Homo sapiens: one gene and its partner. The protein of the gene in region 2 binds, or shares a complex with, the protein of the main gene of each other region. Each region holds a gene or a part of one and is shown on either strand. Other genes may lie near its edges. A codon is read from its position in the direction of its gene.

What was found. Proteins that work in one complex are often made in the same cells at the same time.
Region 1: the proteins of TAPBPL (region 2) and MR1 are in contact, whole or in part, in an NMR structure (PDB 7RNO), measured with the Homo sapiens proteins. Residues at the interface, in NP_060479.3 of Homo sapiens: His47 (codon at 2,751), Arg48 (codon at 2,754), Gly49 (codon at 2,757), Ala50 (codon at 2,760), Ala52 (codon at 2,766), Ser53 (codon at 2,769), Ser54 (codon at 2,772), Leu129 (codon at 3,146), Met131 (codon at 3,152), Thr132 (codon at 3,155), Glu133 (codon at 3,158), Thr135 (codon at 3,164), Arg228, Gln230, Lys232, Gly233, Arg234, Gly235, Thr280, Ile282, Gln293, Ile295, Gln297, Arg307, Leu308, Ser309, Ile320, Cys321, Asp322, Leu355; in NP_001372090.1 of Homo sapiens: Arg101, Arg104, His105, Asn107, Thr129, Gly130, Phe131, Leu132, Gln133, Ile143, Phe144, Asn145, Asp147, Thr148, Leu152, Ala153, Val154, His159, Thr160, Lys162, Gln163, Ala164, Ala167, Asn168, Gln169, His170, Thr213, Phe214, Pro215, Asp248.

The regions. Positions count from the first base shown.
Region 1 is NC_000001.11:181,043,887-181,047,631, reverse strand, and holds part of MR1 (major histocompatibility complex class I-related protein 1 isoform 1 precursor), read right to left. Parts: intron 1-3,745. UniProt on the Homo sapiens protein: Antigen-presenting molecule specialized in displaying microbial pyrimidine-based metabolites to alpha-beta T cell receptors (TCR) on innate-type mucosal-associated invariant T (MAIT) cells.
Region 2 is NC_000012.12:6,450,391-6,454,135, forward strand, and holds the start of TAPBPL (tapasin-related protein isoform 1 precursor), read left to right. Parts: upstream 1-1,651; 5' UTR 1,652-1,858; coding exon 1,859-1,922; intron 1,923-2,160; exon of another isoform or gene 2,161-2,229; intron 2,230-2,676; coding exon 2,677-2,907; intron 2,908-3,056; coding exon 3,057-3,326; intron 3,327-3,745. Other genes in the region: CD27 antigen, read left to right, coding at 151-240, 505-624, 766-1,184. UniProt on the Homo sapiens protein: Component of the antigen processing and presentation pathway, which binds to MHC class I coupled with beta2-microglobulin/B2M. Association between TAPBPR and MHC class I occurs in the absence of a functional peptide-loading complex (PLC).

The DNA of each region.
Region 1 (3,745 bases), on a different chromosome or scaffold from region 2:
ACCACCGTGCCCAGCCTATTTATTTATTTTTTTGAGACAGAGTCTCACTCTGTTGCCCAGGCTGGAGTGCAGTGGCGTGACCTTGGCTCACTGCAACCTCTGCCTCCTGGGTTCAAGTGATTCTCCTGCCTCAGCCTACTGAGTAGCTGAGATTACAGGTATGTGCCAGCATGCCTGGCTAATTTTTGTATTTTTAGTAAAAACAGGGTTTTGCCATGTTAGTCAGGCTGGTCTCGAATTCCTGACCTCATGATCTGCCCACCTCGGCCTCCCAAATTGCTGGGATTACAGGTGTGAGCCACCATGGCCGGCCGAAATTTTTTTTTTTTTTAAAGCACAGTGCTTTTCCTATTATGTCAAACCACTGCTGTTAACCATTTTCTTATTCTTTTTCTACTTACTAGTTATAAGGATTGTAATAAGGGTTAAAAGTAAACCAAAATGAAACAAAACTGTTTGGCCCTCCCTGCTGTTCCCACATTGAACTTCTCTCCGCTTGTCCAAGAAGCTTAGGGCCTGACGGAGACAAAGTGGTTTCAAGGTGGCATTATGGGTGGTGGTGTGTCCGCAATTGGTGGGTTCTTGGTGTCACTGACTTCAAGAATGAAGCCGTGGACCCTCGCGGTGAGTGTTACAGCTCTTAAGGTGGCGCGTCTGGAGTTTTTTCCTTCTGATGTTCGGATGTGTTTGGAGTTTCTTCTTTCTGTTGGGTTGGTGCTCTCGCTGGCTCAGGAGTGAAGCTGCAGACCTTCGCAGTGAGTGTTACAGCTCTAAAGGCGGTGCGTCTGGAGTTGTTCGTTCCTCCTGGTGGGCTCGTGGTCTCGCTGGCTTCAGGAGTGAAGCTGCAGACCTTCGCCATGAGTGTCACAGCTCATAAAGGCAGTGTGGACCCAAAGAGTGAGCAGCAGCAGGATTTATTGCAAAGAGCGAAACAACAAAGCTTCCACAGTGTGGAAGCGGACCCGAGACGGTTGCCACTGCTGGCTCGGGCAGCCTGCTTTTATTCTCTTATCTGGCCCCACCCACATCCTGCTGATTGGTAGAGCCCAGTGGTCTGTTTTGACAGGGCACTGATTGGTGCGTTTACCATCCCTCAGCTAGACACAAAGGTTCTCCACGTCCCCACCAGATTAGCTAGATACAGTGTCCACACAAAGGTTCTCCAAGTCCCCACCAGAGTAGCTAGATGCAGAGTGTCGATTGGTGCAGTCACAAACCCTGAGCTAGACACAGGGTGCTGATTGGTGTTTACAAACCTTGAGCTAGATACAGAGTGCCGATTGGTGTATTTACAATCCCTTAGCTAGACATAAAGGTTCTCCACGTCCCCACCAGACTCAGGAGCCCAGCTGGCTTCACCCAGTGGATCCCCCACTGGGGCTGCAGGTGGAGCTGCCTGCCATTCCCGCGCCGTGCGCCCGCACTCCTCAGCCCTTGGGTGGTCATGGGACTGGCGCCGTGGAGCAGGGGTGGCGCTCATCGGGGAGGCTCGGGCCGCACAGAGGCCCATGGAGGGGGTGGGAGGCTCAGGCATGGCGGGCTGCAGGTCCCCAAGCCCTGCCCCGCAGGAAGGCAGCTAAGGCCCGGCGAGAAATCGAGCTGCAGCGCTGGTGGGCTGGCACTTCTGGGGGACCCAGTACACCCTCCGCAGCCGCTGGCCCGGGTGCTAAGCCCCTCATTGCCCGGGCCGGCAGGGCCGGCTGCCCCCAGTGCAGGGCCCGCCAAGCCCACGCCCACTTGGAACTCCAGCTGGCCCGCAAGCGCCGCCCGCAGCCCGGGTTCCCGCTCGCGCCTCTCCCTCCACACCTCCCTGCAAGCTGCGGGAGCGGGCTCCGGCTTTGGCCAGCCCAGAAAGGGGCTCCCACAGTGCAGCGGTGGGCTGAAGGGCTCCTCAAGTGCCGCCAAAGTGGGAGCCCAGGCAGCGGAGGCGCCAAGAGCGAGCTAGGGCTGTGAGGACTGCCAGCACGCTGTCACCTCTCAGTGTTATGGGATCCAAGCTGGTGTGGGCCCTTAGGAGAGACTTCCAGAGAAGGTGATGTCTTAGGGAGGTCTCAGGGACAGGTAGGAGGTGAGTAGGCAGAGGGGCTGGGAGGGGATGCAGGAGGGCGGGCAGGGGGAGCAGGGCAGAGACCACATGTGCAAGCAGGAGGTTCGAGAAGGCGGGGCGTGCATGGGAACCAAATGGCCTGGGACGTCTGGAGCACAGTGACAGGCGTCACGGGCAGAGGCGATGCCTGGGAGGTGGAGCCCAGGCTGAGAAGGCTACGTACCCCATGCCATCCCCAAAAGCTGGCAAATAGAAGGTATGCAGCCACAATGGCTTTCTTCCCCTACTCTGCCTGCCGGTGTCTGCAGATGCCCATGTCCAAGCCTTTTGTCCTGTTATCTCCTGCCATTCTGACCCATCTAAATCCTTCCCAGTCCTCAAAACCCACCTCCAAAAACATTTCATCCCTAAAACAGGATCATCCCTAAAATTTCATGGCTAAATTGAGATGACAGATGGAGGCTCACATACCAGAGATCCAGATATTTAAAAGGAATAAATCAATCTAACAAACTTGAAATATGTTCTATCCCCCCACCTTGAGAGATTGCCCTTTGTATGGCTTCGAAGACCAAGTTCAAATTAAAAAATCTCACACTGTGTGAAGTTCTGGGCCTGAATGGGGCGGCACAGAGAAAGCTGGTGTCTCCCTCCAGTCCCCGGCCCTCAGCCTGAGACTCACCTCTTTTTCTTCCTGTTTCTTGCTCCTTCCAGCACTGCCAAGGGCCTCCCACAATTAAACACCTCTACTTTTTTATTCAGGCTCAGCCACAAACTGCCTCTTGTCTGAGCTTGTCCTGGGCTTAAGTGATCCTCCCACCTCTTGGCCACCCCTCAGGCCTAGCAAGGCCCTCAAGGGCAGCCAGTCCACCTTTAGGAGGATGGGCCAAAGTGCGAGTTTGTTGTGTAAACCTCAGCAGCTCTGAGTCAGCTGAGTGGGGAACTCCAGGTTCCTGGGTGCCTGGAGTCTGGTCTAGAGTGGAGGGGCCCAGACACAGGGTTACCACCTCCCCTCAGCCTCACGCACTCCTCGCTCTGTGGGAAAGGATGTGGGTAGCAGAGGGCCAGAGTGGGGCTCTCTGAATGTGGGGCCATATCCAGGGGCTTCTCTTGCCTGTGTCTAAGAGCTGTACTACACAACACTTCCCCAGTCTTTCCAGATTGCCCACCCTGCTGCTGCCATCACCTTTAGGACCTCCCCTACATTCAGATCTTCTAACCTGGCCCTTGCCACTATAGAGAATCTTGCAAGGGTGAATACCACTTAATGATATTCATTCCTTCCTCCTCATTTATAAGCATATAGTTAAGAAAAAAGATCAGGCCGGGCGCAGTGGCTCACGCCTGTAATCCCAGCACTTTGGGAGGCCGACGCGGGCGGATCATGAGGTCAGGAGATCGAGACCAACCTGGCTAACATGGTGAAACCCCGTCTCTACTAAAAATACAAAAAATTAGCCAGGCGTTGTGGCAGGCACCTGTAGTCCCAGCTACTTGGGAGGCTGAGGCAGGAGAATGGTGTGAACCCGGGAGGCGGAGCTTGCAGTGAGCCAAGATCACGCCACTGCACTCCAGCCTGGGCGACAGAGTGAGACTCTGTCTCAAAAAAAAAAAAAAAAAAAAGATCAGACAAAAAAAAAAAATCAGCTCACAAAATAGTTGGATTAGCTTCTGTGCTACAAGTTTGTTTATATTTTT
Region 2 (3,745 bases):
AGCGGTGATACCCCAACCAGTACTCCCCACTCCTACCCCTAGATAAGGTCAGCCTGTTTCTGCCTTCCCATCCCATCCAGCACCTCTCAGGCCTTCAGATGTGCCCTATGGGGTCCCCTGCTGCTACTCATTCTGTCTCTGTTTTTCCAGAGATGCTGGAGGCCAGGACAGCTGGGCACATGCAGACTCTGGCTGACTTCAGGCAGCTGCCTGCCCGGACTCTCTCTACCCACTGGCCACGTGAGTTTTCTCCTTAATCCCCACCGCTAGAGAGAATGCATACACGAGGGGCCAGGAGGGAAGCCAGACAGAAAGCTCCTAGGATTAGGGATAAGAGGAGGGGAAAAAGCAGAGTCCACTGTTTAGGAGAGGAGTTGGCCAACGGTGGCGGGTGGGATAGAATAAGGTGGGGGAAAGGGGAGAGGCAAGGTGACAGGAGGGCTGGGCTGAGGGAGCCAAGGGCTAGACCCTCCCCTAACCCCTGTGTGTCCCCTCCTATTACAGCCCAAAGATCCCTGTGCAGCTCCGATTTTATTCGCATCCTTGTGATCTTCTCTGGAATGTTCCTTGTTTTCACCCTGGCCGGGGCCCTGTTCCTCCATCAACGAAGGAAATATAGATCAAGTAAGAGACAGAACACAGGCCTCCGGTCCTGCCCCTGCACCACACCCCACTGGCTCAACCCCACTGCCCACGCCTGGAATCTCACTGAAACCCACCAGCTCCACTTCACCAGCCTTGGTCCTACCCCTTCTCTCCCCTTAGCTGGCGTGCTCCTGACACCCCTCCCCCAAGCGCACCCGCCTCTACCCATCTCCTTCTCCCGTCTCCCCCTGCCCCCACTGCTGGCCAAGACTCATCGGATCTCCTTCTGCAGACAAAGGAGAAAGTCCTGTGGAGCCTGCAGAGCCTTGTCATTACAGCTGCCCCAGGGAGGAGGAGGGCAGCACCATCCCCATCCAGGAGGATTACCGAAAACCGGAGCCTGCCTGCTCCCCCTGAGCCAGCACCTGCGGGAGCTGCACTACAGCCCTGGCCTCCACCCCCACCCCGCCGACCATCCAAGGGAGAGTGAGACCTGGCAGCCACAACTGCAGTCCCATCCTCTTGTCAGGGCCCTTTCCTGTGTACACGTGACAGAGTGCCTTTTCGAGACTGGCAGGGACGAGGACAAATATGGATGAGGTGGAGAGTGGGAAGCAGGAGCCCAGCCAGCTGCGCCTGCGCTGCAGGAGGGCGGGGGCTCTGGTTGTAAAACACACTTCCTGCTGCGAAAGACCCACATGCTACAAGACGGGCAAAATAAAGTGACAGATGACCACCCTGCAGCTCTCCAGCTTCCTCTCTGAAATCCCAGTCCCAAAATCCAGTTTCCTGGCCGCCTCCTGGCTCAGGTCAGGATCTGGCAGAGGAGGTTTCTCAGCCGGTTATGTTGGGGCCTGCTTAAGGGCGGGGGTGAGAAAGGTCCCCAGGCTACTGTGGATCCTGTGTCTGACTTCAGATCCCCTTTTCCCACAGTTATAGCTCCACTTTTTTGGGACAGGTGGGGAGCAAAAGGGTGCAGAGGTCAGGTCTTGAAATCACCAGGGGATTTCCGGGTGAGGTGGGTGGTGAGAAAGGAAACAGCAAGCAGGGCTCTGGCAGCTGCTGCAGACGGCTTCACACAGGGACGCGGGCTGCCATCTTGCTCTAAGTGAAAGTGAAAGAAAAGTCGGCAGCAGAGGGAACAGGGAAGAAACCTAAAGGCTGCAGGCTGCCAGGTGTGCTTGGAGAGCCCCCTTCTTCCGCCGGGCCTCGCAAGCAGCGTAGGACTGTGGAGAAGGGCGGTGGGCAAGGAGGGAACTCGAGAGCAGCCTCCATGGGCACACAGGAGGGCTGGTGCCTGCTGCTCTGCCTGGCTCTATCTGGAGCAGCAGAAACCAGTGAGTCTGGGAGTCGGGGAGAGCTGGCTGGGAGAAGAGCTACTGAAGCCCCAGGGTGCCACCCTCCCCGAGATTCCAGAAGAGCAAAGGGGCCGGGGATGACCCCATCGCCTTCTAAGCCCAACAGGGGAAAGGCTCAGCGGCTGGCAAAGGAAGGAACCAATAGTGTGTGTGGAGGGAGGGTGGGGACTCCACAGGGAAAATGCTAAAGAGGGGCTGCCTCTGTGGCTGTGGTCAGGAGCCACTGTCCTACAGAGAGGGCACTGGCCTGGGAGCTGACACTTCAGAAGAGGAAAGGACTCCCCAGGTGAGGAAATCACTTGGAAGGTGACCTTGAAGGCGGGGGAGGGGAAGGCTACCCGAAATGGGAGAAAGCAGTGCAGGCTGTCAGTGCCCCAGCAACAGTAACTGTCCAGTCTCCTCTCTCTGCGGTGGCACTTGCTTGTTTTCTGAGAATTCCTTTGACTGAAAAGATAGTCTTTTATTCAACAGTTGGAAATGCAAGCATAAACTCCTCTGAGCAAGGCAAATCCAGGACTTTAACTCTCACCAAGAAGTATTTGCCTGGACTAGCAGGTGCTCTCCAGAAAGCTGGTTTGGGGATGACGGGAGAATAGAGGGACACAGAAACAGCTAGGATCTTGGATGGCAACTTTTACCCTTTGATGACTCCACAGCTTGAGGGCGGGGGCAGGAAGCAAGTGTGGAGTAGCTTTCTGGGGAAGGCGGTGCTCACCCCAGCCTTTGTCTGCAGAGCCCCACCCAGCAGAGGGGCAGTGGCGGGCAGTGGACGTGGTCCTAGACTGCTTCCTGGCGAAGGACGGTGCGCACCGTGGAGCTCTCGCCAGCAGTGAGGACAGGGCAAGGGCCTCCCTTGTGCTGAAGCAGGTGCCAGTGCTGGACGATGGCTCCCTGGAGGACTTCACCGATTTCCAAGGGGGCACACTGGCCCAAGATGACCCACCTATTATCTTTGAGGCCTCAGGTAAAAGCCTTCCACCTGTGTCCTTGGTCCTCCCGGGCTCCCTCCACCAGGACAGCCCAGGTCCCGATTACAGCCACACATACTGCCTCCCGTTGGCCCTGGTGTTCTCACGCTAATTTGCCCTCTGTGTGTGCCCTGCTTCTCCCCAGTGGACCTGGTCCAGATTCCCCAGGCCGAGGCCTTGCTCCATGCTGACTGCAGTGGGAAGGAGGTGACCTGTGAGATCTCCCGCTACTTTCTCCAGATGACAGAGACCACTGTTAAGACAGCAGCTTGGTTCATGGCCAACATGCAGGTCTCTGGAGGGGGACCTAGCATCTCCTTGGTGATGAAGACTCCCAGGGTCACCAAGAATGAGGCGCTCTGGCACCCGACGCTGAACTTGCCACTGAGCCCCCAGGGGACTGTGCGAACTGCAGGTAAGAAAATGAAAAGCAAGGCCAGGTGTGGTGGCTCACGCCTGTAATTCCAGAATTTTGGGATACCGAGGTCGGTGGATCACCTGAGGTCAGGAGTTTGAGATCAGCCTGGTCAACACGGTGAAACCCCGTCTCTACTAATACCAAAATTAGCCGGGCATGGTGGCGGGTGCCTGTAATCCCAGCTACGAGGGAGGCTGAGGCAGGAGAATCGCTTGAACCCGGAAGGCAGAGGTTGCGGTGAGCCGAGATCACACCATGGCACTTCAGCCTGGGCAACAAGAGCGAAACTCCATCTCAAAAAAAAAAAAGAAAAGAAAAGAAAAGCAAGTCACAGAAAGTTTTGCTTTTCTAAAGTGGTAAGATATGGGGCACAGAAGAAGAAAGGGAACAAATCCACCTCCATCCACACTGGTCAC